Regions from separate parts of the Homo sapiens genome. Here all the other regions are linked to region 1. The links come from fine-mapping of genetic effects on gene expression. A gene starts in region 1. Each other region holds a variant in brackets. All regions are shown on one strand. Distances are between the middles of the regions. Region 1 holds the start of ZWINT (ZW10 interacting kinetochore protein). Region 2 has its middle 31 kb from the start of MIR3924. Region 3 has its middle 62 kb from the start of ZWINT.

Evidence for each region.
Region 2: its variant is fine-mapped to the expression of ZWINT in whole blood (TOPMed, PIP above 0.99).
Region 3: its variant is fine-mapped to the expression of ZWINT in subcutaneous fat (GTEx, PIP above 0.99).

The regions. Positions count from the first base shown.
Region 1 is chr10:56,358,599-56,368,981 of GRCh38, reverse strand. It overlaps ZWINT (ZW10 interacting kinetochore protein), which reads left to right and starts at 7,723. Exons shown (of 9, transcript NM_007057.4): 1 at 7,723-7,786; 2 at 8,599-8,689; 3 at 8,841-8,964; 4 at 9,129-9,295; 5 at 9,450-9,506; 6 at 10,035-10,177; 7 at 10,258-10,383. The coding sequence starts at 7,746. LOC124902546 (a long non-coding RNA gene) reads right to left here and starts at 7,523. Exons shown (of 2, transcript XR_007062372.1): 1 at 7,126-7,523; 2 at 4,263-4,957. RefSeq lists a silencer at 7,456-7,665 and enhancers at 7,756-7,925, 7,274-8,013, 8,753-9,493, 8,639-9,838.
Region 2 is chr10:57,268,683-57,279,065 of GRCh38, reverse strand. No RefSeq gene overlaps it. Among named protein-coding and RNA genes, the nearest start is that of MIR3924, 31 kb to the left of the region's middle. The variant A/T (reference allele first, on the strand shown) is at 5,045.
Region 3 is chr10:56,294,372-56,304,754 of GRCh38, reverse strand. No RefSeq gene overlaps it. Among named protein-coding and RNA genes, the nearest start is that of ZWINT, 62 kb to the left of the region's middle. The variant C/T (reference allele first, on the strand shown) is at 4,869.

The DNA.
Region 1 (10,383 bases):
TTTAAAAGTTACTATTACCAAAAGTATCTTTTTAAAAAAAATTCAGCAGGTTAAATTATGTAAGTTTTAAGACTGCTTGGAGAATATTTAAGAAATATTGGAAAAACATCCATCAGTTAATGGATGTGATATAAATGTAGAAATATTCCTACATTTAGGAAGGTAGAAGAAATATTTTTGACAATTGTAACACATAGTACATGGAATATTTTACTGTATATATTTAAGGTGTACAACAAGTTTTGCTATACATATACAAAGTGAACTGATTTCTACAGGTGCATTTTTAGGCATCCTTTGAAATCATTATAGCACATGTGCTTTATTTAAGCCATTATTGCTTAAGCCTCTAAGTTAATAAATATCACAATAAAATTACATTTTAGCTACCGGTGAATAAAAGTGACACAGAAAGCAAACAATCAGAGATTCTATTGAGAAAAAAGGCTAGTGTTAAAATTCAAGGAGAAAATTAAGTGAATTTCAAGATATTACTTTTTAGATAATGTTTACAATGTAAGATATTCACATACATGAGAAAATATATGTAGAGACAGGTACAGAGAGGGAAAGACAGGGACCATATGTATATATTAAGATACATACATATTTATATATAATCTTTTTTATTTATTGGGTTTCCATGACCCATTTAGATGATCTTGCCTCAAGGAAGTGATGATCTGGAAATATAGGTTCAATTCCTAAAACAATGCTGAGAGAGATAAACACAGCAAACAGAAGTTTCTATGCAATAGAAATAGATTCCAAAAGTATGATGTCAGTTTTGATGTTTTATTAAGTACTGGAGGTGTTCTGCCTATAGACAAATGCAAAGATAAGTTTTATCTGCTTACTTATATTTGCTTAATGCTCTATAAATCTCACATGAATTTGCCTCCATGCTCACTTCATATATTCTAATAATATAGTTGATATTCTATTTAAGTGTTAATGCAACTACTATTTTCAGAGCCATTTCATATGTGCTAAACAATAAAAGCTGCGTATTGGACAACACAGAAAAAAGTAAGACATAGACTTATACCTTTTAATTGATCTACAGTTATTTTCACTAGAATTTTAGGCCAGATCTCTCCCAATCAGAGCCAAGTAGAGGGGGAAATAGAGTTGGCAAATTTATGCAGTATGATGTTTAAAGTCCTATTTTCCAACGTCACCTTGTAGCATGTCATTTTGACTTGCAATTTGTTGTTTTATCCTTGAACGGTTTGGTCTTCAGTTTAATCAAACACTATTTAAATTTGGATGTTAACAGTGATGTCATTGATACATTTGGAAAATATCTTATTCAAAAGGCAGTATCTTCATAGGAATTTGTGATAAATAGATCAAAGGTATCTAAACTCTCACACATAAAGCCAATCCCTGCCACTTTAATCAAAATGTGCATTTTAGCAAGTGTCATTTATTATCTCTACTGTAACATAAATGTAGAATATGTAGACAGTGTTAAAACATAGACACATCAAGCAGAATGAACTCTTACTAGTCAAGCAAGAAGATTCTTTATGGAATGCATAGGAAAAGCATTTTTCATTAAATTGGAAGTATGCATACAATACAAATTGCAATGGAGAGCGTTAAAACATTGGCTAATGAAAAATTGCTGAAAATTCTCCTAAGAATTTTCTGTATTACGCATCTCAATTTATTTCCTTTAATGCTTCTGTCACTGTAGGTACTTCTCTGTTACTAGAAACTCATCTTTTTTCTACAAATCCACAATATGTCAGTTACTCAACTATATTGATTCCAGCATTCTTTTCTTGTTCATTCTATAGTCAGCATACGGAATGCCATTGACCTCCACAGTTTCAATTGCCTACATATTTATGTTGATCAAATATATATTTCCAGTTCTCACATTTTTCCAAGCCCTAAACCTCCTTATCCATTCAAGACACATTCAAATGTCTTTTAAAAATATATACATGAATAGCTAAAATGCCTCTAATAGGTAGGTCAACAAAATCAAGTTGAAAATCTTCCTCTGTCATTTGTCAAATAGAATTATCTTCCAGGAATCACTATTTAAATAAATTGTATCACAGTTCATCCAGTTGCACCATCAGAAACTGAAGTAACATATTTTATACATCGTTTAGTAACTCCAACATATCCAACAAATGATAAAACCTATGAAGTATTTCACCTAAATATATCGAGCTATTTGTATCTTTAGTGCCAAGTTACTTATAGAATCCAAAAATGTTTTCACCTTTTACTAAGCCTACTGGAATAATCACATTTTTCAACCTTTTATTTTTCCACCCATAATTGAGGCTTAACTTTGCAATACTAAAATCTGACTTGCCATCTAATTATGAAGAAACTTTCAATAGATTTCTACTATGTTTATATAAAACCAATATGCTTAAAATGACCTACTGCAGCCTTGCATGAATTGTCCCTTATGTGCATAGAACAAATTATTAGTATCAACTATTAACAAAAAATAGCATTTATCCTCAATAAGCTTATTAGAAAAGAAGAGATATCACTCAAATAATTCTACAAGCAGATGTAAAATGCAACTGTGACTAGATAAAAAGTCTGTAGAGCTTTGTGAGCCTATAGTAAGGAGGCCTGATATAGGCATATAGGTGAAGGAAGGTTTGATCATGTCTGAAAAATCTGAACAATAATCTAGATCATGTCTGAAAAATTTGAGCAGAAATCTAAAGATGTTAGGAGTTAATTAAGTCAAAGAAAAAGACTGCAACATTAGCATACAACATCACATTCAATGCATGTAGGAGGCTATTTAGATCGTTTACAAACAAAAAAACTATATATTTTGCATTGTACTATTCATTTATAATTGTTCAGGCTAATTTTATGACCCATAATATGGACTTGACTATTGGGTATACACTGGGAAAGCATGACTATTCTGCTGTTAGGTTCAGTGTTCTATAAATTATTGTAAGTGGCTTATTGAAATCTCAACAATGACTATGGATTTATCTATTTCTCCTTGCAGTTCAGTTTTTGATTCATGTATTTTGATGATCTCATATTAGGTGTCCAAAAACATTTATGATTAAGTTCACATGATTAATTGACCCCTTTATCATGATAATATCACTTTCTTATTTCTGGTGACAGCCTTTTGCCCAAATATATATATGTATATCTATATATCTATATATATATAGATATATATATATAGATATACATATATATGTGTGTGTGTGTGTGTGTGTGTGTGTGTGTGTGTGTGTGTGTGTATATATATGCCCTAAAATAGCCACTTCAGCTTTCATCTGATTAATATTAGCATGGTATTTTTCCATCCTTTTATTTCTTTATATTTAGTGTACTTAACGTAATTTTGCTGTGGTATCCAATCTAATAATCTCTCCCTTTTAATGGTATATTTAAGGTATTTACATTTAACGGTGATAACACATATGCTTAGGCTTATACCTATCATTTTGCTATTTGTTTTTTATTCTCTTCATTTTTTTCTTTGTTCGTCTTCACTTTTTCTGCCTTCTTTTGGATTAGTTGTTTATATTTTATCTCCTTTATTGATTTGTTACCTACAATTCTTTGTTTTAGAAGTTTATAATAGTTTTCTATTGCTATGTAACAAATTATCACAATTTAGAATCTTAAAAAAACACATTTATTATCTCACAGTTTCTACAAGTCAAGATTTTAAGACAGTTTCACTGGGTCAAGGTTTTGCATTCTGCTCAAGGTCTCACAAGTTTTCAATCACGATGTTAACTGAGTAGCGTTATTTTTTATTTGATTATTTGTAGAAACTTAATCCCCTCAGGGCTGTTTGACTGAGGGCCCCATCTATTCATTGGCTATCAGCTCAGGTCTATTTACAGGTCCTAAAGGCCACTCAGAGTTCCTTGCCATGTGATAACTACCACAGGCAACTTACAACATGGTTGTATGCTTCTTCCAGGCCAGAAGGAGAATCCCTCTTTTTTTTGTGCAGTCTGCTAAGCTTCTGCTATACATGGAAATGGAGGCATGAGAGTGGCATGCTATCCCCTCTGCCTAACAAGCAACCTAATCAATAGAATGACATCCCATCACCTTTATTGTATTCTATTGGTCACAATTTCTATCTGCACTAGAAAGAAAGAAATCACACAAGGAAATGACTCACTGGTAGCCCTTCTAAAGTGTGTTGGCACTATTGCTTCAGAGAGTCTAGAACACAGTTTTAACTCATCAGTTCACCTTCAACTGATAACAAAACTTCAGAGAAACTATACAAGCATATAAATTTACTTTTATTTCTTCTCTCCCACACTTTGTGCTACATTTTACTTTTACATATGTTATAAAACCCACATCACAATTTTTTTTCCTTTAAAGATAGGGTCTCACTTTGTTACCCAGGCTGAAGTGCAATGGCATGACCAACTCATCACAGCTTTGAACTGGGCTCAAGTGATCTTCCCACCTCAGACTCCTAAGTAGCCAGGACCACATTTCACTCCTTTGTATACATTCAGATTTGAAGCTAATGCCATTTTCATTCTGCCTGAAGAACTTCTTGTTTCATGTGGGATCTTATGCTGAAAATTTCCTTCCATTTTTGTGTGTTTAAGAATGTCTTTAGTTAGCCTTCTTTTTTATTTTTATTTATTTTTTGAGACAGTCTTGCTCTGTCACCCAGGCTGGAGTGCAGTGGCACGATCTTGGCTCACTGCAACCTCCACCTCCCAGGCTCATGCCATTCTCCCGCCTCAGCCTCCCGAGTAGCTGGGACTACAGGTGCCCGCCACCACGCCTGGCTAATTTTTGTATTTCTAGTGGAGACGGGGGATTTCACTGTGTTAGCCAGGATGGTCTTGATCTCCTGACCTCGTGATCTGCCCACCTCGGCCTTCCAAAGTGCTGGGATTATAGGTGTGAGCCACTGCATCCAGCCTAGTTAGTCTTCATTTTTGAAAGCTGTTTGCTGGAAACAGAAATCAAGGTTGACTTTTTTTTATTCTTACAGTACTTGAAAGATGTTACTCTACTGTCTTGCTTGCATTGTTCCAAGAAGAAATTTCCCGTAATCCTTATCTTTGTTTCTATGTAACATGTGCCCCAACACCCCTTATTACTTTAGAATTTTTTATCAATGGTTTTGAGTTATGCAATTATGGTATAACTTGATGTCATTTTCTTAATATTTCTTGTGTTTGAGATTTGTGAAGCTTCTTGAATATATGAATTTATATTTTTCATCACATTTCAAATTTTTTGGTCTTTATTACTTGTTTTCTTGTCCTCTCCCCTTGCCTCTCTGAGACTCCACTTTCAAGTATATTATTAGGCTGTTAGAAGTTGTCTCACAGCTCACCATTGATTTGTTCATGTTACTTTATTTTCATTTTTTAATGTTGTGATTGATTTTGGGTAGTTTCTCTAGAGCTGTGTTTCACTTTCATTCTGCAATGTGTAACATACTATATTAATACCATCTAATTCCATCTATCACATTGTAGTGTTCACCTCTACAAGTTTGATTTAGGTCTTTATTACAAGCTTTGTGTCTTTGATTAACTTTTTTAACAGCTTTTATGACAGCAGTAAAGTGTAAATTTAGCGGTTTTCTGTATAGAATTGTACAACCTTCACCATAACCGAAGTGTAGAACATTTTATTTATCCCTTTAAAAGAAACACTATATCCATTTGCAGTCCCTCCCCATACTCTCTCAACCTCTCATTCCCACCAATCCCCAGCCCTGGACAAGCACTATATAAATTTACTTTCTGTTGCTATAGATTTGTCAAATCTAGACATTTCACATAAATGAAATAATATATTATGTGGTCTTTTGTAATTAGCTTCTTTCACTTAGTATATTTTCAAGGTTCATATTTTAGCATGTAGTAACCATTATTTAGCATGTAATAAAGTTCTCTTTACTACTGATTAATACTTCATTGAATGAAAGTATGCATTTTCACTCACCAGCTAATGGGCCTTTGGGTTGTTTTTACCTTTCAGCTTTTGTGAATAATGCTGCTATAGAGGTTTGTGTACTTTTGTGTCCCCATGTTTTTATTTGTCTTGGATATATAACTAGGAATGAAATTGTGACTCATATGGTAACCCTACGTTCAAAGCCTATGCACCAGTTTACATTTCCATCAACATGAGAATTCCACTTTCTTTACATCCTTAGCACCACTTACCTTTTTCATTATAGTTCTGATATCTTTTTGAAGATATGGGATATAGTTACAATAACTGTTTTAATGTCCTTGCCTGTTGATTCTAACATTACTTCAGTTCTGATCAGCAATTGATTTTTCTCCTCATTATGTGTTTTTTTTTTTCTTTTTGCAAGCTTGGTAATTTTTCTTTGTATGACATATGTAAATTGCACCTTTGGTGAACATTTTTCTATTTCTATAAATACTGCTGAAGTTTGGTCTTGTCATCTGTCATGGTTTGTTAAGTTTGATCCATTTGGGTCTTACTTTTAAGAGTTAGATGGCACTACAGCACTGATCAGCTAGGACTAATTACTGCCTACTAAATAATTAGTAAACAACTATCAAATCAAGACTTTTTTGTGTGTACTCTGTCCAGTGTCCTACGGACTATGAAGTTTTCCAGCCTGGTTAGTGGAAATAGAGACTATTTCTGACCCTCTGTAATGTCCATATATATATATTTATATATATATATATATGTATTTTTTTTTTTTTGTGAGACGGAGTCTCGCACTGTCACCAGGGCTGTAGTGCTGTGGCGCAATTTCGGCTAACTGCAACCTCAGCCTCCCTGGTTCAAGCAATTCTCCTGCCTCAGCCTCCCGAATAGCTGGGATTACAAGCGCCCACCACCACGCCCAACTAATTTTTTTTGTACTTTTAGTAGAGACGGGGGTTTCACCATGTTGGCCAGGCTGGTCTCAAACTCCTGACCTCGTAATTCACCTGCCTCAGACTCACAAAGTGCTGGGATTACAGACGTGAGCCACCGCGACCGGCCATGTCCTGGTATCTTTAAAAATCTTTTAGCTAGTTTCTTGAGACACATACTGCTCAGTACTCAGCTGAATGAATACCAAGTTCTCTCTCAGCAGTTATCTTTCTCCTGTACTCTGCAAAGAACATTACCTACCTTGGTCTCCCCAGAATATCTGTTCTATTTTGCCAACGCAGGCAATCGGCTGGGCTCTGCTTGAGTTCACTCTCCTGCATCGCATCTATAAAATACTAATATCTTTGAAAGCAGCTCGCTTTTTGAGCGCAGATCATTTGCTTCCTGTATCTCCCGGATCACTATTCTTTACTGATTCCCAGCGTCTTAGAAACAGCCCCACTGTTTTTCGGGGTTTTGTTTTTTTTTTTCTACAGCAGTAGTGAATATTTTAAATAAAGTGTCAATGCTGTAAGTTTCCCTTAAAACGCAAACTCAAGGAAATGCTTTCCCTTTTTCGAGTAGAGAAAGAACTTCCACAGGCGCGCGGTCGAGCTCAAGCCCACTTATAGTCTCTGGCACCGCGTAAGGACTAGCGCGCAGGCGCAGAGCCCGTGCGCGCCTAGCCATAACCGCGCTTGCGCCAAGCAGCGAGGCCCGCCAACGAGCGAATCCGCGCCTGCCAATTAGAGCGCACAATGGTCCTTGATGCCCGCCCACTAACCTCTGCAGCCAATCGCCTGCCCCGGCGCGAAGTCGACTGTGACTTCAAAGTAATCTTAGGGATTGTGGGAAGGCAGCTGAACTCGGCGCCTGGAAAGATGGAGGCAGCGGAGACAGAGGCGGAAGCTGCAGCCCTAGAGTAAGTGTTTGCGGCTAAGTGGCAGCTGGGGCCGGGCCTGGGAGGACCTTGTGGGCCCCTATGTGTAATGATTGGTGCCCTCGACCCTGTACAGCTGTTGAGGTTCGACCCTGCCGTGAAGTGATCCTCACCGCAGTCCCGTCTTAGGTTCCTGAGGTGTCTGTTGCCTGCTCCAGGAGTACAGCCTTTGGGGGACCGTTCGCCGCTCCCCACATCCACATAATCCACAGGATGTGCTCTAGGAGACGGTTTCACTTCTGTCTTCTTGTCCCAACACGACACATTCCCAGTCACTTCTCATCCCCATCCCTGCCCCTTCGTAGATTGCTCCAGTCCCTAATAATGAAAAACCCTAGAGTAGACCGAGGCATCCAGCCCTCTGCCCTGAGTCCTTTCTCAGCTATTCCAAGACTCTGCCCCAAGGCTGGTGCTCAGCGCCAGGAGGGATCCCAAGGCCCAGCATTCTTCCCCTTCCTTGCATATCTCCCTGGCTTCCTTCACATCTTGACTCAAATGATTTCTCTTCAGTGAGACACTCCCTATTTAAAATTTCAGCTCTTTTCTCAAACTCCTTATCCACTAGCCCTGCTGATTTTCCTTTTGGCACGTATTACCACCGTGTGCCCTCCATGCACGCCATTCCTGGTTGCAGGCTGTGGACCCTTCAGGCCCTTGTGTAAACTCTGGTCAAGGCAAGACTCTCAATACTATATATACTGATATACACATCCACATTTGTTTGTGTACACACACGAACTGTAGAACTAGCACCACAAGAAACTGCAATTTCCTGTGTTTCCTTGCCCCTCCAGGGTCCTGGCTGAGGTGGCAGGCATCTTGGAACCTGTAGGCCTGCAGGAGGAGGCAGAACTGCCAGCCAAGATCCTGGTTGAGTTTGTGGTGGTATGTACAAGATGAGAGCGAGCCTTTCAGAAGCCAGGGTCTGGTCCTGGCTCCTCTTACTGAGATACAGGGCAGCACTGGCAGAGAGCAGACTTAAGGAAACCTGTAAGGAGGTAAGGATGTTCCCTGTCTCTGCCCTCCCTCTGAGCAGGACTCTCAGAAGAAAGACAAGCTGCTCTGCAGCCAGCTTCAGGTAGCGGATTTCCTGCAGAACATCCTGGCTCAGGAGGACACTGCTAAGGGTCTCGACCCCTTGGCTTCTGAAGACACGAGCCGTGAGTAGGCAGGGGATTGTAGTAGCAGCTGACCTGAGTGGGGAAGGAAGGAGGATTTCAGTTAGGTCTCCCATTTGGCTGATGGGAAGGAGGCCCAGTGTTGCAGGGAGGCAGGCTAGCAGGCCACCCTCACTCATGTACTCATTCCTGGTGGCTCATCTCAGGACAGAAGGCAATTGCAGCTAAGGAACAATGGAAAGAGCTGAAGGCCACCTACAGGGAGCACGTAGAGGCCATCAAAATTGGCCTCACCAAGGCCCTGACTCAGATGGAGGAAGCCCAGAGGAAACGGACACAACTCCGGGAAGCCTTTGAGCAGCTCCAGGCCAAGGTACACCCAGGGGTCTTGAGTACAGGGAGGGAAGGGCAGTTAGAAAGGAAGAGGGAAAGAGTGAGCAAGCTGAGTTGTGCCAGCTTGCAATCTCCCAAAATTCTAGCCAGAAAAAATAGACTTCTCTTGGTCTTTCTCCCTTGCTTATCTGTAGAAACAAATGGCCATGGAGAAACGCAGAGCAGTCCAGAACCAGTGGCAGCTACAACAGGTAGGTTCGTCCCCCTAGGAGAATATCCCTTCCCACCACCATGCCATTGTATCGGCTGTGTCCCCTGTCTAGAAAACCGTTTTGCTTCCTCCTTTGAGGCACTATAATATAAATACCAACATGGGCTTGAATCTCAGTGTCACCACTTACCACTGCATGATCTTGGGCAGGTCACCTAACTTTCTGTTTCTTTATTTAAAATGAAGGCAATAATACCACCTACTCTAGAGAGTTATTAAGATGATTAAATGATCATTACAGCAAGGACTTTAAAATAGTACCTGGCACATAGCAAGTTAAATAAGTGTTATCACCTTTGTGCCCCTTCCCCGCAAGAATGCCTCACCCTAGAACAGCTCATTCTGATCTTTCCTTTTCTCTAGGCCCCTACTCCACCCTGAAGTGAATAGAGTCCCTCTTTTCATCATTGAGCCTGAGCCCTGAGCTGGGTGTAGGCTGGAGGGGTTGGAGGGAGTTTCTAAGACTTCAACATCTGATGCATAATGTCTGCATGCTCACTCCTGGCAGGAGAAGCATCTGCAGCATCTGGCGGAGGTTTCTGCAGAGGTGAGGGAGCGTAAGACAGGGACTCAGCAGGAGCTTGACAGGGTGTTTCAGAAACTTGGAAACCTGAAGCAGCAGGCAGAACAGGAGCGGGACAAGCTGCAGAGGTAAGTTCGGGAGCATGGGCTGCAGATTCAAAATGGTCCAGCTGAGATTCCTTTCCTTCACACTTACCTCCTCTTTGTAGGTATCAGACCTTCCTCCAGCTTCTGTATACCCTGCAGGGTAAGCTGTTGTTCCCTGAGGCTGAGGCTGAGGCAGAGAATCTTCCAGATGATAAACCCCAGCAGCCGACTCGACCCCAGGAGCAGAG
Region 2 (10,383 bases), 910 kb before region 1:
ACATCTTAATTACTGTAACTTCCTAGGAAGCTTTATGTTTTATATATTATACCTTCAGTTTTATATATTTGAAGTGTACAACATGATGTTTTGAGATACATATAGTGAAATGATTACTAAAGTCAAGTAAATTAACATATTCATCATTGTACACAGTTACCTATTTTGTATGTACATGGCAGGAGTGCCCAAAATCTACTCTTTTAGCAAAAGTCCTGAATACAGTATAATACTATTAAGTAGAGACCTCACTATGTACAATGTTTCTAAACTTGCTCATTCTACATATCTGCTATTTTGTATCCTTTGACCTTTATCTCCCCATTTTTTCCTCATCCCCACCTCCTTAACCACTTTTTATTCTCTGTTTCTGTGTTTTTGATTTTTTTTTTTTTTTAGCAAGCATTAAAATCAGAATCCGTGAGTCCTACAGCTTTTTCTTCCTCAAGGTTCTTTTGGCTCTTCTGTGTCTCTAACATTTCTATATGAATTTTAGAATCAATTTATTGATTTCCACAAAAATGCTTTATGTGCTTTTGAAGGGGATTAATTAAATATGCAGATCAATGTGGGGAGTAATTACCACCTCAATAATATTAAGTGTTCTGATCCAGAAATGAAGGATATCATTCAATTTATTTTACTTTTTATAATTACATTTATTTTATTTATCAAAATGTTATTTTGTAGTATTGTGTATACAAGTTTTGCATTGATTTAAATTTATTGATATATAATTTTTCTTTATAAGCTATTATAAATGAAATTGTTTTCTTAATTTCATTTTTGTATTGTTCATTGCGAGTTTATAGAAATAAACAGTGATCATTATTGCTTTGTGTAGTTGTCTTGAAGATATGGGATACAAACAATTACAAACAAAAATATATTTTTTTAATATTTATCTATCTAGTTACTTTTACTTGTAATCTTTATTGCTTCACATGAATTTGATTTACTCTCTAGTGTTTTTTCATGTCAACCGAAACGACTCTCTTTAGCATTTTTTCTTGTAGGGCAGGTCTGCTAGTAGTACATTATTTTACTTTTTGTTTATCTGAAAAACTCTTTATTTTTGAAGGATTAACTTCTATTCATATATTAGTAGAACTGTTGATTGTCAGACTTTTTTTTCTGCGCATTGTAAATAATGAGTTGTTTCTGTTTTGCTGTTTTCAAGATACCCTCTTTAGCTTTTGAAAGTTTTGTTATGATGTGTGAAGATTTAGATCTTTTTGAATTCATCCCACTTGCAGTTCACTGAGATTCTTGGATGTACAGATGAATGGTTTTCATGAAATTTGGGAATTTTTTAAATCATTATTTCATCAAATATTGTTTCTTACCCTACATCTCTTTTTCCTCTTCTTTCAGGGTTCTCATTATGTATAAATTGATATGCATAATAACGTTTCTTATGGTCCTTGGGATCTGTTTATTTTCCTTCATTCACTTTTCTGTTCATTATAATGGCTAATCTCAATTCATCCCTCTCAAGTTATCAGATGCATTCTTCTGCCAGCCCAAATCTTTAGTTGAGCTTCTCTGTGATTTTTTTCTATCAAATACTATATTTTCCAACTTCACAGTTTTTATTTCATTCTTTTTTATTTCTATCTTTTTATCATTATTCTCTCTTTGATGAAACATCATTTGTATACTTTCCTTTAGTTCTTTAAATGTGGCTTATTTCTTTGAAAATATTGAAAATAGGTGATTTTAAAGTTTTGACTAATGATCAAAAATTGTGAATCTTTAAGGGCCATTTCTTGTTGTCTTTCTTTTTTGTATGGGACTTTTTTTTGTATTCCTTTCATGTCATGATTTTTAAATTGAAGACTTGACATTTCATATAATATATAGTGTTCCAACTCTGAAATACAGATTATCTCCCATCCTTAGGTTTTGTTGTTGTTTCTTTTTATAGTTATTTGTTGTCATTGTTAATATTTATTTTGTGACAAGTCATTTTTAAAATCTGTATTCATTCTCATGTGGGTCTGCTAAAAATCTCTATTCAGTTAGCTTAGTGGTTGATTAATGAGTGGTCAGTTAAAGAGATTTTCTTAAATACCTGCAACCAGCGTTTCTCATTCTCTGCAAAGGAGGTAGGTATGTATTGGGGCATACCTTCAATGTTCAGTGAAGCTGTTATTCTCTCTGTTCTTATCTACAACTAAACATTTTTCTTGAAAAAAAATTCCAAGGTTTTTGAAATCCTTTAGTTAATTTCAAGGGCCAGCCCAAAACTTTGCCTTAACTTTCAATTTCTATTTGTACAGGGCCTCAAGTTCAGCCAGAAATGAGAACTTAGGTGTTTTCTTAATGTGCACACAGCCCTCATCATATACTTAAGCCTACATATGTGCACCACCTTCAAAATTAACAGAAATATGCCAGAGGTTTTCAAAGCCCCTCCAAAATTTTATTTCTTGGCTATTTATTTTAACTTTTTGAATTAGTTTACATTTTGCCATATTTTAAATAACAACCTTAATTTAACATTTAAATGATAATGCTAAACAACTGTCATTGATTTCCATTGACAAATGACTCAAGGAAAATGTTAGCACAGGGTGAGCTGCAAGTTATGTAAGCAAAGACAAACCTTGTGAGTGTATTTTTCTCTAGGAAAATGCTACATAAGTAAAATAATGATACTTATCTGAAAATTAAGCTTTGAAACTTCTCAAACCCCATTTTGATCCTTGCAGTGACTGTTTACCTGCTGAGTCACTGTGATTGAAGGCTGTTGGTTTTAAGAGTGCCAAATAACTTGGATGAGAGGGATTGGACTAGGTTAAGTTAAAATGCTACATTAAGTGTTTATTGCTATTCTTAAGGTCCTTCAGAGATTTACATTGATTAAATTCTCCTCAGATGTGAAAAGCTTTGGCTAATTTCCAAGGATCCAAAAAGTTGATTTTGATAATTTCACTGACGTTCTTATCATTTTTATGCAGAAGAGGACTTTTGGAGGTCCTTATTCTGTCATTCCTGATAATGTCACTTTTCACTTTACATAAGAGTTTCTTTTTTTCTGCGTCATTACCAGCATTTGTTATTTTTGTATTTTTTATAGTAGCCATTATAAAAAATAAAATAACATCTCATGGTTTTGCTTTGCATTTCCCTGCTGATAAGTGATGTTTAGCCTTTTTTAAAAAAATAAAAACTTGCTATATCTTCTTTTGAGAACTATTTAGATCATTTGTGCATTTTGAATTGCATTATTTGTTTTTATATTGTTGAGTTGTTTGAGTACCTTGTATATTCTGGGTATCAATCCCTTGTCAGATGAATAGTTTGCAAATATTTTCTCTCATTCTCTATGTTACCTTTCATTTGGTTGACTGTTTCCTTTGCTGTGAAGAAGCTTTTCAACTTGATGTAATCCCCTTTGTCTTTTTTGCTTTTGTTTTCTGCTTTCGAGGTCTTATTCATAAAATTTTTACCCAGACAAATATCCTGAAGCATTTCCCCTATATTTTCTTCTAGTGGCTTCATACATTTGAGTCTTATATTTAAGTTTTAATCCATTTTTAATTGCTCTTACATGAGAGTTAGAAGTCTGAGAGTTAGAGGTCTAGTTACATTCTTCTGTATATGGATATCTAGTTGTTCCATCATCATTTATTGAAGACACTGTTCTTTCTTCAACATACATTGTTGACAACTTTATCAAAAATTAGTTGGTTGTAGATGCATGGCTTTATTTTTGGGTTCTGTATTCTGTTCCATTGTTACCTGTGTCTGTTTTTATGCCAGTACCATACTGTTTTGATTCCTATAGTTTTGTATGACATTTTGAAGTCAGGCAGTGTGATGACTCCAGCTTTATTTTTTTTGTTCATGATTGCTTCTGCTATTTGAGGACTTTTGTGGTATCATACAAATTTTAGGATTTTTTTATATTTCTGTTAACAATGTCATTGGCATTTTGATTGGTGTTGCACTGAATCTGCCTATTGCTTTGGATAGTATTATCAGCAATATTAATTCTTCCAGTCTATGACCATATGACATTTTTCCATTTTTTTCTGTCCTGTTCAGTTTTGTTCATCAGTGATTTTCAGATTTACTTGTAGAAATCTTTCACCTCCTTGGATAAATTCATTCCTAGGTGGTTTTTTATATTAGCTATGATAAATGGAATCCCTTTCTTGATTTTTTAAGCTAGTTTGTTATTTGTATATAGAAATGCTACCTATTTTGTTTGTTGATTTTATGTTAGTGAATTTGTTTATCAGCTCTAAGAGTTTTTGGTGGAATCTTTAGATTTTTCTCTACATGAGGTCATATTATCTGCAGACAGGGTCAATTTGACTTCCTTCTTTCCCATTTGGATGCCCTTCATTTCATTCCCTTGCTTAATTGCTCTGGCCAGGACTTCTAGTAGCATGTTAAATAAGAGCAGTAAATATGGGCAAGGGCAAACTTTTCTTATTCCAGTTCTTACAGGAAAAGCTTTCAACTTTTTCTCATTCAGTAGATGTTAACTGGGGTTTTTCATTTATGGCCTTTATTGTGTTGAGCTACATTCCTTCCAAGCTTAATTGTTGAGAGTTTTTATAATAAAGGAATATTGAATTTTATCAACTGTTTTTCCTACATCTGTTGAGCAATCATATGGTTTTTGTCCTTCATTTTGTTGATGTGATATATCATGTTCATTTATTTTCATGTGTACAATCCATCTTTGCATCCCTGGGATAAATCCCTCTTCATCATAGGTATAATTTTTTTGATGTACTGTTGGAATTGATTTGCAATATTTTTTGAGGACTTTTGCATCTTTGTTCATCTGGGACGTTAGCCTGCACTTTCCTTACATTGTTATGTTCTTACCTGGTTTTGGTCTCAGGGGTATTGGTTGTTGTTTGAAGTCTGGTGAAATTTAGCAGTGAAGCCATTCAGTTCTGGGCTTGTGTCTTATTGAGAGGCTGTTTATTACTGATTTAATCTCATTACTTGCTATTGATCTGTTCAGGTTTTCTATTTATTTCTGGTTCAATGTTGGTAAGTTTTATGTGTTCAGGAATTT[A/T]TCTATTTTCTCTATGTTTTCTAATTTGTTAGTGCATAGTTATTCATAATAGACTCTAACAGTCCTTTGTATTTCTGTGGTTTCAGTTGGAATGTCTTTTTTGTTTCTGATTTTATTTATGAGTCATTTCTCTTTTTTCTTAGTCTGTCGTTACATAGGGTTATCACTTCCATAGAGAAATAGTAGCATATAATAATGAATCTACCAATAGTTATTTACTGGCCAATAGTTGAACTATTTAGTAACTGTAAAACAACCTAGAAGAAAGGACAATGTGAGAAAATTTTATTTTGTAATTGGACAACTGCATAAGATATTTTATGAGGTGGGTGTTTTGGCTTTACTGTATAACACTTTACTAAATATCTCGTATTTCTCTGCAGCTAACTCTTTCTAGGTATGACTAATATAAAAGTGGTCAATTGACTTTTTAAAGTGATAAAATAAATTGCATGTCATACAGAAATATATTCAACGATATGCCTGAATGACCATCTTACTCAATTTAAAAATGAATAATTTTTGCCATATTTATTCCTGGATGTAAACATGAGAAAGATATTTTGTAATTACATTTGGGTAAAATGTATGGTTTTACTTCCACTCATACATGCAGTGAAATTCCAGGTTATAAAAAGTATATTCTTCTAAACTACTCTGTGCTATATAACACTAGTAGGGCCTAAAGTTGTTCTACAAGTTCCTAGTTTACCCCTAGAAACTCACCTATGCACTGAGAAAAACAAACAAATACATTCATACTCATCTACATTTAATTAGCCAATTATATGTTAGAAAAATAAGAATAAATAAGTACAAGATTAAATATTTTTAAAACAAATATTGTTAAATATGCAAATTAATGAATAAATAAACTAGCATAATTCCGAACCAAATAAATTTGTCTTGCTGCATACCTTGAAGGTCAAAGTGAAAAGTGACATCATTAGGAATGACAGAATAAGGACTTCCAAAATCCTCTTCTCTGTTAAAGCAATAAGAATACCAGCAAACTTATCAAATTCAACTTTTTGGAACCCTGGAAATTAGCCAAAGCTTTTCATATCTGAGGAGAATTTAATCAATGTAAATCTCTGAAGGACCTTAAGAATAGCAATAAACACTTACGTAGCATTTTAACTTGACCTAGTCCAATCCCACTCATCCAAGATATTTGGCACTCTTAAAACCAAAAGCCTTCAATCACAATGACCCAACAGGTAAAAGGTCACTGCAGGGGTCAAAATGGGGTTTGAGAAATTTGAAAGCTTAATTTTCAAATAATTGTCATTATTTTACCTATGTGTCATTTTCCTAGAAAAACAAATCCGCTCACCAAGTTTGTCTTATTTAAGTGTGAATGTGAATTAGGATGGATATTATGAAAAACAGTATAGAAGTTCCTCAAAAAACTACAAATAAAACTACTATATGATCCAACAACCCCACTACTGGGTATATATCCAAAAGAAAGAAAATCAGTATATCAAAGAGATATCTGCACCATCATGGTTATTACAACACTATTCACAATAGCCCAGATACACGATCAACCTAAAGGTCTATCAACACATGAATAAAAAAAATGGTGTATATATGCAACAGACTACCATGTAGCCATAAAAAAGAATAAAATCCTGTCATTTGCAGCAACATGGATGAACCTGGAAGACATTAAGTTATGTGAAATAAGTCAGGCACAGAAAGAAAAATACTGCATATTCTCACTCATGTGTGGAAGCTAAAAAAGTTGATCCATAGAAGTAGAAAGTAGAATAGTGGTTATTAGAGGCTGTGGATGGCAGGAAAGCAGTTAGAGAGTAGTTGGTTAAAAGATAAAAAATTATAGCTAGACTTGGAAGAGTAAGTTATAGTGTTCTATAGCATTGTAGGATAACTATAGTTAATAATTTATTGTACACTTTTGAATAGTTAGAAAAGATTTGGAATGTTCTTAACACAAAGACATGATAAATACTTGAGGTGATGGATATCCCAATTACTCTGATTTGATCATTACATTGTATACATGAATTGTAATATCACATTACACTCTATAAATATGTACAATTATTATGCTAATTTAAAATACTAATACAAATGTACTAATGTCCCAGTTTGTCACAATGGTAATTAGAATTTAAGATACAAACCATTAAAGGAGAATGTTACTTTAAATGGACTGTCTCTCAAAGATAATTTTTCTAGGTACCAGCCCAGTACAGCACAATCAGTACATATTAATGAAATGCTCCAAATTATCTGTTCTGTTTTTATTTTCTCACTCCATTCTCAGCTCACCCATCCCTCGGAGTATATTACCTATATTGTCACTAGTACTTATCTTTCTTTGCTGTAGTAAAATCACAAATAATAGGAAAACTTGAATAGTTTGTAATAAATATTTTTCCTGTTTTTTCCGTAAAGCCTGACTATCTCTACACTGCCCCAGCAGGCTTCTCAAATGGGATTCTTCACCATAAATGAGATTTAGTCAATTTGGTGTTGGAATTTTCTCCCATTTCTGGTAAAACTTCTGCCTGAGCTGGAGAGCGCCAATCTCTTCTATGAGAAGAACTGAGTAGATGAGAATTTCAGATGTAAAATACTTTGAAAAAGGATAAGAAAATTGCATTTAAGAGTTGTTAGCAAAATTAGAGGACTCTGCATGCTAGCCATACCTAAAAGAGAGGTTCTAAATTTATGACCTTGATAGGGGAAGGGTTGATGTGAAGAAAAATCAGAAAAAAAGAATGAAATAAAGAACAATAGGAGTTTCCATCCACAACATGTACTGTTCCTGGCCTTTTAACATGCAATTAATTTTTTAATCTGAAAGTATTTTAGTTAGTGATATGCTAGGCTTCAAACTACTGATATTCAGATTATGTTGCAGAAATAGTCAATTTTATTTAAGAAAAGCTGGAAAGAGAGTTCCTGGGGGACTTTGACTTGCCTTTTATCATAAATAGCTATAATACTGGGAAAAAAAATTTAGGCCTTTGACACCAGTAACATGAACCCTGAAATAAGGGAGGAAGGCAAGATGAGTCCCTTTATTTCTTAAGCTTAATACCAGAAAAGTGAGCAATGAAATAGCATTGTTAGGTGAATAGAATTTCAAGGTGCAAAACAATGTATATTTACATATACATTTACATAAAGAAAATGTGTTTGTACAATATATACTGTATATACTCTCAGAATACATATCAAACATTTTTTCATCTCTAGGGATGGAGTGAGAATGAGTTAGTTGTAAAGTTATTGTCTTAAATTTGTCAATACACATGGCAACTGCTTACATTATTTGTAATGGTGTGTTTGTATATTATCTTTGTAAATTTTTAAAGAAAAAATGTTATAAAAACAAAATAAAGCCTTGATAATGAGTTTGAGGGCCGGGAAACAATAGCCTTTGCTCATTAACATATTAAAGCTGTAAAATGGATATTTTTCCCCATGAGCTTCAATTAAGCTTTTGTATTTCGAATGGAAAAAGATGTGTGGAAAAATGTATTCATTTTTTTCTGAATTCTTTTTTTTTTTTTTTTTTTTGATACTGAGTCTCCTCTGTCACCCAGGCTGGAGTGCAGTGGCGCGATCTCGGCTCACTGCAAGCTCCGCCTCCCGGGTTCAAGCCATTCTCCTGCCTCAGCCTCCCGAGTAGCTGGGACTACAGGCGCCTGCAACCACGCCCTGCTAATTTTTTGTAGTTTTAGTAGAGACGGGGTTTCACCGTGTTAGCCAGGATGGTCTCGGCCTCCTGACCTCGTGATCTGCCCGCCTCGGCCTCCCAAAGTGCTGGGATTACAGGCGTGAGCCACCGCGCCTGGCGTCTGAATTCTTTCTCTATAGAAAACACAAAGCAAAATTAGATTAAAAATACACATGCATAAAGCGCAGCTCCGCCGTTGTTTCAGTAAATGGTGTGACGTGGCTAGGCAGGGCTTTTTAGGTCTGGACCCAAGTTAACTTGAATGCCACGTAGGCTACAGTTCATTTTTACCAGATTATTTCTTATCTCCTGTAATATATTGCACATATTCACCCATTTAGTTTTACTTATTATTTCTCTAATTTTGGAATTTCCTTCACCATTTCTGCCTACTGAAATGCTAATCAGGTATTGAGCCCCATCTCAGGTGTTACTTTCATGATTAGTTTTTGACTTGCTGACCCTCTGGCAATTGCTGTCTTCCTTGCCTATTCACACACTGTTTTCCATTACAGATAATTGTGCATATTTTAGTCTCCACCGCTAGACCCCATCTTCTTTAGGGCAGAGGTTATGTCTTAATTAATATTAAATCTCTGTCTGTGTAAGATCTTATACACAACATGTTGGATTGACCTGCACGTAACTGTGAGATGTTCTCATTTCACCCTGTCCCACAGCACTGATCTTTAAAGAAGGTTGGTAATAATCAGGGGTGATTTTCCGAAATTTTGTAATGTCATATCATCACAGATAAAAGCTATGAATAGCTTTTATAAAATATCTCAGTATTTTAAAATAATATGCGAATTGGTACCATTTGCAATGTAGTATTGTAAATGATTATTTAACTCTAAAAATATTTTCAGATAACATTCTTTCTAGAGCTTTTACTCAACTACATACTAAACTTAAAATTCTATTTTACTCAACCTGCTATGTATCATTTCTCAGCTTTCTTTATTTTCTGACACTGATTTTCATGTTTATATAACTATTTTAAATTATGCCATAGGAAAAAATCCTTATGCTTTTTTTTTATTAAAAAAAACGAGGCCTCACAAAATTCAGATTAAATGTTTTAACTTCCAGTTTAAAGCAGGAACAACAGTTTCCTAGATTTCCAAGAAGAAAGATAATGGTCCTGTTAAGAATGGAAAGTGACTTCTTCCTTTATCGGATAGGGAAGGAAGAAAGAAAGATGTTTTCCTGGAGAATATAGACTGTAGCTCAAAGTGGTAATATCTTTTGTGCATGCAGAAGATAAGACCTAGAACAATGGTGTCAACTCAATAAGAGGAAAGGAGTGGTCCAAGACATGGGGAAAGAAATGGAAAGAATTTCAGATTTTACAGGCAGGGTACATACCTTCTGACAAATTAAGGATGATATTAATATGTTCTACCCTAAATTGATTCATTATGAAAAGAATTGAGAATTGATCATGTACCAGCCTTGCTAAAGACAGATATGTAATCCTGAGCTAAATCTAGAATTAACAAGAGTATAGACTCTTCTGAATCTTTTTGGTGGTGGCAGACTATTTCGAGCAGGTAATATGCTGGAGGTCAAAGGAGGAGACATGAAACAATATTAGATGTTGGGTTTATTCATTTTCCAT
Region 3 (10,383 bases), 64 kb after region 1:
CATTTATACATAGCAATCTCTTTAAAAATTTCAATAACTATTTTCTAGGAATAATAAAAAATTATGAATTCTGGATTTATCTGAAAATAAAATTATAGGCACATGCATGTGTAAATACATAATATAGACATATACAAACATACACATATAAATACATAAATAAAATAAATTCATAATAAATATTCTGAAAAAATTTTACAACTCAAACTGAGCTGATTATTCTCTTTTCTAAAGAGGATATGATAGATGTCTCTAAAGACTACAAGAAATCTGGTGTCCAGATGCAGCTTCTTATTGCTAAATGTAAAACCTCCCTTTGACAGCTGGTGACTGCAAATGAGTTTAGGAAGCGGATGATGGCAATAAGTTAACTGAGAACAGAAATCCTCATAATAACCAGCTACCCTAACTGCTTATATCAGACTCTATCACCCACTGGGCTTCCAAGCATGACAAAAACTTCTTTCAAGAAATTTCATTTTTTGAATTCAAACTAAATGCCATGCAATTTATTGGATTTTTTTGGAATTAGGCTTCATCTGAAACACTAGGTGTTTCTCATAAAGATATCATTGTGGCTGCTAGATGACTATGAAATGTAGCTCAGAAAGGACATTATGAAACATAGCTCAGAAAGGAAACCTACACTCTTTCTCAGATACTCCAGGCTACACATATTTGACAGTAGCACTTACTTATATTATACAAAGTACACTTTGATTTGGTTTTCCTTGAATTGTTTCATTTTTTAGTTAGTTATGAATAGACTGTGGGTGAGTGTATGTGTGTGTGTCTTAATATGTGCTGCAAGTAGAGCCATCTGGGGATTGTGGGGCTGCCAGAAGTTCACTTAATATACCTTCCTCTGAGTTCAGAATTAGTAGGCAATATTGATATGGGAAGTTGAGTACAAATCTAGAATCTAGATCTATAATCTAGAATCTAGAATATAGATCTAGAATCTACAATCTAGGCAACAAGCTGAATGCCTAATAGACTGCCTTTAGTAATTAGCTACACTTCCATTTTTCTGCCACCATTTCCATCTATAAATGAGAAAATGTTTTATCTTCTATAAAATGAGTATATTGGACTCAACGGTACCGAGTTTAAATAAGTACTTATTTAAATTAAATAAGTAATACCACCTCAAAGTAGGTATTCCATTCTAGTTTAGGAGAGTAACAAGTAAGAGTCAGGTAAAGCATAGGCACCATGAGGACAAGAATACATTCATTTACTTTTCATGTTCCCCTCAGCACTGGTTAACATGACCTGCATATCCTCTTGGGAGGTTCATTCATATCTGTTGGCCTGTTAATCCAGTGCTGGAGATATGATTGATGAATAGACATAAAAAGTCTACCTATGACTTTCTTTTATGTGTTACATCTACAACAAACTAAACTGAACTCTCTTAAATATATAAGCTTTAACCACAAGAAATGTGAAAGTGGAAAAATAAAAAGATGCAAAGACACAATAGTGATAATTTGAAAATAATCTTAGCCACAATCCAGAAGGTATGTATATCTACATATATTTTTAATGTATTTTACCCTAGTCGCCCAGGAAAATACTTCACACAATAAAAGATGCTCAAGAAATTTTCATTGGCTTGATTTTTTTTTAATTTAAGCAGTTGATAATGGCAATTGTATTAATGAGGTCAGTTATTGAAGCAATACTTACCTCCTAAAAGTTTATATAATCTACATGTGGATAACTATTTAATCTTTTTGGAATTAGGCTTCATCTGAAGGTATCTTGTCATTTGCAGATGCTATTGGTGTCCTCCAGTCTTGCATTATTATGTATGCAACACAGCCTAGAGGACAGAGGACTGGAAAAACAGCAAGAATTATGTTAACTGTAAAAGAGCACTACCAACTTCCCTGCATAGCTTTGATGCACAAAGTTGTCATTCTTCCAACCTACTAACAGAAACAGCAGTACATATAGGTAGAACAAGTATAAAAAATGCCTATAGGGATAACAGAATGCAGCAATATAAGAACTCTTTTCTAAAGAGCCTGTGAGCTGGTACACTCAATAGAAAACTCTTGGAATTTTTTGGTAGAATCATAAATGTACAAAACATCTTAAATAGATTAAAAGTATAAAATAGTAAGGTAAATATGAATGGCAGTATTTCATAAGTATAGGTCTAACTCTGACTTGTTCCTTGAACAAAGACTCCTTAATAAGTACTACATACATTAAGAAATGAAAACAGGAAAAATCTCATGTATGCATATTTTTTAATTATAAAGAGTGACAGTTGATATTACAGTAATTATTCAGATATCTACAAAATTCTGGAGTACCTTGGGAAAACTTAAAAACGGGAGTAAGCTGGATTTCATTACATTTCTGAATTAAGTGTATTTTGTTAAATGCTAATATTTTGATGACTAGCACACCATAGGAATGTTGAATGTAGAAAATGTTTATTGATCATCTTATCTGAATAAGACAATGTGCTAGGTGATTTGGGGAGAAAAGATAAAAGGTACATCCAAGTTTCTTATAATGTATTAGTGGAGCTAACAGAAAACACAACTATTTTATAGATTCCCTTACTAGTAATAATTTGAAATATTCTTACATTTAAATAAAATTTCAAAGTTGGATATTGATAAATCTCATTTTTGGGTGATGAAAGAGAATTTTAGATAATTTTCCTAAACAGAGAATTAGTCTCAAAAAGTGAAAAGTAATCTTCACTGACTTCCTATTGCTTTTAGAATTAATTATAGATTTTCCTACTTGTTCCTAAAAGCATTATACATCATGACCCAAATCTATTTACATACTACCATTATTTCTCAATACTGTATATGTAAATGCCTAATAAAATAGAATTTATATTTCTATTCCCTAACCACAATCTGTGCCTTCCTGACTTAGTACCTTGGTTTATGTCCTATAATATCATTCACACTACTAAAAAATTTATCTCTCTTTTAAGGCTTAAGTCAATGTCCATCAGCTGCATTAATATTATTTTGGTTTCTTTTCAGAGTAGTATTGATACTTTGCTTTAATCTCTCTTTCAAAGTACCAATTATGCAAAATGAAAACACCTGGCATGATACAAAGCCCTATATGAATACTGGTTTTTCTTATTTCCTGTCTTTTTTTTCTGACTCTTCAAATATTTGATAAAGTAGATCACAAGGTATCAAACTGTTGCTTGGCAGTAGGCATCCTCAAAGAACTCAGTCAGCATCAAATGACATAGAGTGATAAGTAAACTGATGTTTACAGTATAGAAGTAAAAGGACTATGAGAGTAGTAGGAGAAGGAGCAAACATATTGAAACATAAAACACAGACTTGTGAAACAAAAATGTCTTCCAAAATTCAAGTACTGAAGTATACCTGAAAAAAATAATGTGTTTGAAGGAATGATAGAAGATGAGTCTAAAAAGAATAAAAGAAAATTACGAACTGTTATGTGTGATAAACAAATATCTATGAATCTTATTCTGAAAGCTATAATTAACGTGGAAAGGTTATAAGCAGAAGATTAGATGTGCATCACAGAAGGACTATTGTGGGATCAGTGTGAGTCATAGTTGAAGATCAGACCGTCTTCTATAGAAAGGGTCAAGTGATTAGGTTAGCCCTACTCATATAATTTCCTCCTTTTAACATTAATTGGCAAATGACCTTAATTACATCTGGAAAATCATTTTTGCCAAGTGCAATAACATAAGGGAGAAATGCCAGGGTGTGCAAATCACGAGAGACATTTTAGAATTTTGCCTGCCACAAAAAAGGGATGTTAATTGCCATACATAGTTACCATAACATAGTGTAATTTAGATGTAAAGAAAATGAAAATTAACCAACCAATGATTTCCAAAGATACTTTTTACTGTAAAAATATGTTCTCATTGTAGTTGTAACAGGTTCTCTCATTTGCTATGGATCCACCTTTAGATGCAGCATATACATATCTAAATAAAACACATTATAATTTTTTTTATGTATTTATCCTTGAAGACTGCTATCATTTGGGATGACTATATATATGTTTTTATTTTTATTATTTTTGCCAGTAAAATTATGGACCTTCTTTTCAACCATCAGGATAAGAGCTAATATGAAGTCTTTAATAGTTAAAAGTAATAAAAAAATTCTATTTTTATAACCTATTTTATTAGTAGTTCTAAATATGAGTATTACATATTCAAACATTTAAAGATAACTTGTGGCTTAATTTATGTGACAGGTAAGAGATCTGGAATACATGGATTTATTTTATGCAATAAAACAAAATATGCAATATATTTTGTTTTGTAAGTACCCTAATGCCTCGAAGTGTATCTTATCAAGGCCAGACAAGTGCTCAGAATAAATATTACTTAGTACAAAGGTATTATTATGTTATTCATAATAATAGCTTTGCATTTTCAAAACTAATTCTATATACACACATATACTGATCCTATAGTCATATCATTAAATCAGTTTACTTTTTTCCCAGTTTTTTCAATCCATTTAGGTCAGAGCTCTGCAGGGGTACCATATCACAGAATTTAGACAATATATTTGCATAGTAATGTCATATTATTTTATTTGGAATTGCATGAGATGTTTTCACAGTCAAGTGAATTGTTGGATTAGTAACTTGAGCTCACTCTAAATCAGAGAGTTGAGGATCATATTTAGAGAGTAATGAGTTTAAAACACAATCTTTGTTTGTATAACTAGCCACCCTTTTATAAAAGAACTAACCAAGTAAAGTTGATCCTATTAATCAATCAACAATAGCAATAGGAAAAATCAATTTCTGAAGCTGGCTCAGTTGCTCTTTTTTTGATCAAGATAGTTGTAACCCTGTTTCTTTTACTTCCTTAA[C/T]CCTACCTATTTTACCCCCCCCCCACACACACACATTATATTGCTTATAACAATTAACTTAAGAATAGAACTAGGAACTTTGAAGAACAGTCACTAATACATGCTACACTGGATATAAGAGGCTTTTAAAATTTGTTTGTTTATTGAGCAAATATTGACTACAGATTTTCTGTAAATCATTATGGGCAAGTATGGCAATATTTAGAATTAGTTTGCAGACCCTCACTTAAAATAGACAAATAAACTCAGGATTTTGTGACCCAGAAAATCTGAAAACAAAATGCATTATATTGGAAAGACATGTATTTCATAAAAGGAACAATGTAGAAATGAACATAAATCCATTATATTTAACAATAGAACTAGTTATTCAGTTACTTAACCCTTTGTAAAATCATTATAGAAGCATAATTTAAAGAAACACAGTACCTACCTTAGAAGCAAAGAACGCCTAGTGAACTTCAACCAGTCTCTTAATTCATGTCTTCCAAAATAATTGGAACCCTACATATCAGTGGTCCCCAATCTTTTTGGCACCAGGTTTTGTGGGGATAGTTTTTCCACAGACAGAGTCGGGGGTAGTTTCGGGATGAAACTATTTCACCTCAGATCATCAGGCATTAGTTAGATTCTGATAAGGAGAGTGCAACCTAGATGCCTCTCACGCACAGTTCCCAATAGGATTCTTGCTCCTGTGAGAATCTAATGCCCAGCTGATCTGACCGGAGGCGGAGCTCAGGCGGTAATGCTAGTTAAACTGCAACTCACCTCCTGCTGTGCAGCCCACTTCCTAACAGGCCACAGAAAGCTACCAGTCTGCAGCGTGGTACCAGTCTGTGGCCCAGGGGTTGGGGACACCTACTATATATTGTAAGGAAATTTGAAGATTTTTAAAATCAATATTCCTAATTTGGTTATAAAAATGTGTATGCTTGGGAAATGTTTTCAAACAATTAATATTAAATAGAGAAGGAGTTTTATTGAAAACTGAGGCAATCCAAAAGACTTTTAATTTCTTTTGTAAACTTAAGAAGAAAAAAGTACCAGTATCGTCCATATAACATTCCTCAGAGTATAAGAGCCTATAGGGAGGTAGCTTGGGACAAAGAAAGAAACACGGCACAGGCAGTACAAGCTAAACTCCAACAACTAGGAGCTGCGTGAACTTTGGCAAGTTACCTCTCCTCTCTGAACCACAACTCATTCATCTATTAAAAAGACTGATTTTTTAAATATATATGTATTTATTAAATATGTTGGAGTTTTAAAGGTCAGGATTTATATAATGATCCAGTGAAGTACTTACAGAAGAGGAAGTAAACATCAGAGTCCTCTTTGGTGTCAAAAATTACTTCCGTATAATTTCACATAACTAATGGAGACTCTATCTGAGCTCAAAAGACACAAAGAGCAAGTCCTCAATAATTTGAAGAGAGCTGTGATCTTCAAATCCATTGTTGTGTATTTTCACCCCCAACCTATACCTCTTCCATTTCTTTAACAATTGAATTGTTTTAAGATATTCGACAATTAACTCTCTTCACTACATTTCTTTAGTTTGTCTCAGAATAAGAGCTAAAAGTGAACATCATACTTAAGACATGATTTGACTAGTAAAATTTGAGGAGTCTACCTTTCTGTTCTTAGGACAGAATACTTTCATTAAAGATAGAGGACAGGAGTGGTGAAGATACTTTATCTATCAATGTGACTCATATTGAGTTTGTCCAAATCTTCACATTCTTTTCAAATGTGCTGTTTTTTATGAAATGTTTCAATCTATTCACATTTTCCGTATCATATTTAGAGTTGTATAATTCACCTAGTCTTCAATACCAGTATCTATAGAATAATATTTACTAATGATGCTTATTGCACTTCAGATAAAAACATCAAGTAAAGCAAAGAAGAATTAACTTATGTGATTCAACATAACGATCCTATTCAAGAAGAGAATGATAGACATATTAAAATAAGATAGTGCTTTGATTTTTACATAAAAACTCAAGTACTTCAGACACATGATTTTTTCATAGGTAACACTGATGTCTATAAACAACAAAAACTACAAGCCCCTGGGTATTGATGGCATTATCTTGCATACAAAACTATTGCTATGGAAACAAAGTTAAAATTATTCTAAAAATGTTATGCTGACTTTTAGTCAGCTCAAATAAGCTCTTGTGACCAACTGATTTAGAAACAAATTGCTAGATAGTCTTCCAATTGAGAGTAATTTAACAGACTTCATAATTAAGGTAGATGTGTCTCTCATTTGTGTCAACATTGGACACTTAAGATTTAAATTTAATTTAAAATTTCTCCATTATTTCTAAGCAGTCAATGATTTTGATCTACTGTTGCTATTAAAATACATGAGATTAACTCTAAAGAGGTTTGTATAAATTACTAAAAAAATAATATTACTAAGGGGAAAATATTAAGGCCCTAAATCTGAGAAATGGAGTAAAATTAATGACTAGATGATGTCTTTTAGTGCAGTATTTTTACCTAACATTTTATTCCTAACAATCATAAACAAATAATTTGGGACCAGACTTATTAACTGTCAGTGATTATCTTGGAAAATATGAAACAATATGATAAAGTTAAGAGCTTAAACCCTGGAGTTTGATGTTCGGATTCCAAACCCGCTGTAGCATTATTAGCCACATAAGTGATTGAATTCATCTGTGCCTTAGCTTTCTCACTGGTAAAATATGAATTATAGTAATCACTATGTTATATGATTAAAGTAATAAGAAATAGATGAGATTGTGGTTTTAATATTACTCAGTACAGCATTTGACACCTTAATAATGATGGCTATGGGAGAAAATAAAATCTCTCAAAATGAGAAAAAATAATTTTTACATCCTTAACCACCCACTCAATAACAAGTAATATCATAGGACAAATAAATTACTGGGGAACACTGTTGGCATCCTGAAGGCAAAGTTAAAGAAACAGAGATGGCAGAACAGATCCCACAGTAGTTAGCCTTATATGGACTCTGAGAGTTAGGGAGCTGTGGTGCTTGCCTATGCTGTAGTGTTCTGGGCTAGCCCAAGGCAGAGAGGTCTTATGCAAATATCAGCCTTGACACAGCAACAATGGTGATTTATTTTGAAACCTGTAGATTTATTGCATTGCGGAAGACAAGCTCCCAAGGCTAAGGATGAGAAATTCTTGTCTATTTTCTTTTTTTTTTCCAAGTAAAAAATACCTCCCTGGAAGCCCAGAAATCAGTCTGTAATTGCCAGCCTATAGTATCACCTACTTATGTTACCTATTTACTTCACATTTTACTGTTTACACATATCTTTGATACTCTGTTTCATTTTATATTTATGATAAATAATTGTAAGAATTTTACAAAGAAATAGTTATTATCTCCAATCTTTAGAGAAGGAAAATGAAGTTTAGGATATCTTATTTATTTATTCCAGATAGCGAATAAGTAATAGGGCCAAGATAAGACCTTCTAATCCCATTTTATTTAACGATTTCTCATAATGGCTGAAGCTAGTCAAGTAATGCACTGACTAGCTTTAGCAGGAGCAGGAAAATAATTTAACTTATTGTATTATTATATTAAAAGACATTGGTGGGGTAGAATATAAAGATTATTGCATAGTAAGTTAGTGAAGGATGACTAGGGCAGGAAATTAGGAAAATAATAGAAACTATGTATCTTAATGTCTGCAAATTCCCAGTGGCCTACTGAGTTACTGATAATAGCAAGAGGAGACTTGGCATCTAGAAGAGGTACTAAAGATATACTAGAATAGGGCATATCTCAGGTGGTGTGTATTCCAAAACAAATTACTTCCATTATATTTTCTTCGGGTCCAGTATTTACGGCATTTTCATATGTTATTTTAAATTCAGGGATTAGTTATCTTGAGTCAATAGCTCATAAAGGCTGTTATATGACCTTATAACATATCTGGTAGAAATGTGACTTTTTTTCTTTTTTTACATTTAAAAAGAGAGGAAAAAGTGAAAATATTCTAGTATTTTGTTTGTGCTGATGCCTAGCTGGGGTTTAGTGAGGTGGCCTTTTTATAGGCTGTAGTAAACTTTCCATGCTGTCCAAGTGGATTCATGTTTCTCTCAATTACAAAGGGCAATTATAATATACTTATATGTGTGTTGAAATCTGATGCTCCATAAATATAAAATCTCGTTCTTTCATGAGACTGATTGAAATCTCAGTGCTGACTGAGCAAGTAACACCTAGATTGCCCTCTCATTGCTTGGATCATATGGACAAGGCAAGCCATCCATCAACACAGACTGGCACAGAGGAAAGGATATTGTTTCTGATGTGAAGGCTACCACTGCATGCCAGCGTTGGCTTATGAAATTAGCTAAGAATAGGAGTCTACAATGAAATACAGCAGTTTTTTCCCCTATAAGACATTACAGACATTTGTTTAACGTCTGCTAAATGATGTTTACCCCAGTCTACTAAGGCTCATCATTAGCTCTTCACGATGACCTAGTCACCTTCCTTATAAGGGGAAAATGAGAGGTAAAATGTACAGTGAACATTTAACCACCAGAAGCTAGGAGAGGGGTATGAAACAGATTTTCCTCACACCTTTCAGAAGGAACCAACCCTGCCAATTCCTCAATCTTAGAATTCTAACCTTCAGAAATGTGAGAATAAATTTCTGTTGTTTAAGCTACCCAGTTTGTGGACTTCCGTACTGCAGCACTAGCAAACTACACACTGACCAAGAAATGAAAAAAAAAGAAAGTAATATGACAATTACCCAAAAATGTGAGCCAAAGACCACTTAAAAATTCTAGAAATTTAAGGCAGACAGCACTTCCCCATACTGTATAATTGGGAATTTTAATTGTCTTTATTTTTATCATTTATTGAAAGATGTTATGTTACTGTGTTAACTTTTAAAAAAATAGCATAAATATATATTTCATTTAGTATAATACCTAGGGTTACACACTTCTAGAGTAAAACTATAAGAACATGGATGAGCTGTATTGATACCTACTTGTGTTAACTATATGCACATTGTTTTCCAACAGATCTTTAGAAATTTTTCATCTCAGAAATGTGAAATTCTATATTTGTTGAACAATAACTCACTTTGGTACTTTTATTATCTTTTATATACTTATGGTAAGAAAATAATCACATATTAAATATGGGTTTTTTTACTTTTAGAAGACAAAAGATATTTTTATTAATAATATATATGTAGGGAGCCAGATAGGATCCCATGTGGGATAGTGGTAGTAGAAATGTTTCATGAATTGATGGTGTTAGACCTATGACTTCATACACAGTTATGAATAATAACTAGGTTTTTCTTCTTAAGAGTATGTCATAGAACTTGCCCATCACTATAGGTTTTATTATTTTCCCGTCGAGTGTCCCAAAGTTACACAGAGTGCCAATAAGACCTCTCTTCTTTTATGACACTGAGATACATAGGAAACAACAGGAGAATAAATTCCATTTGTGGCTAATGGGATGTTCAAG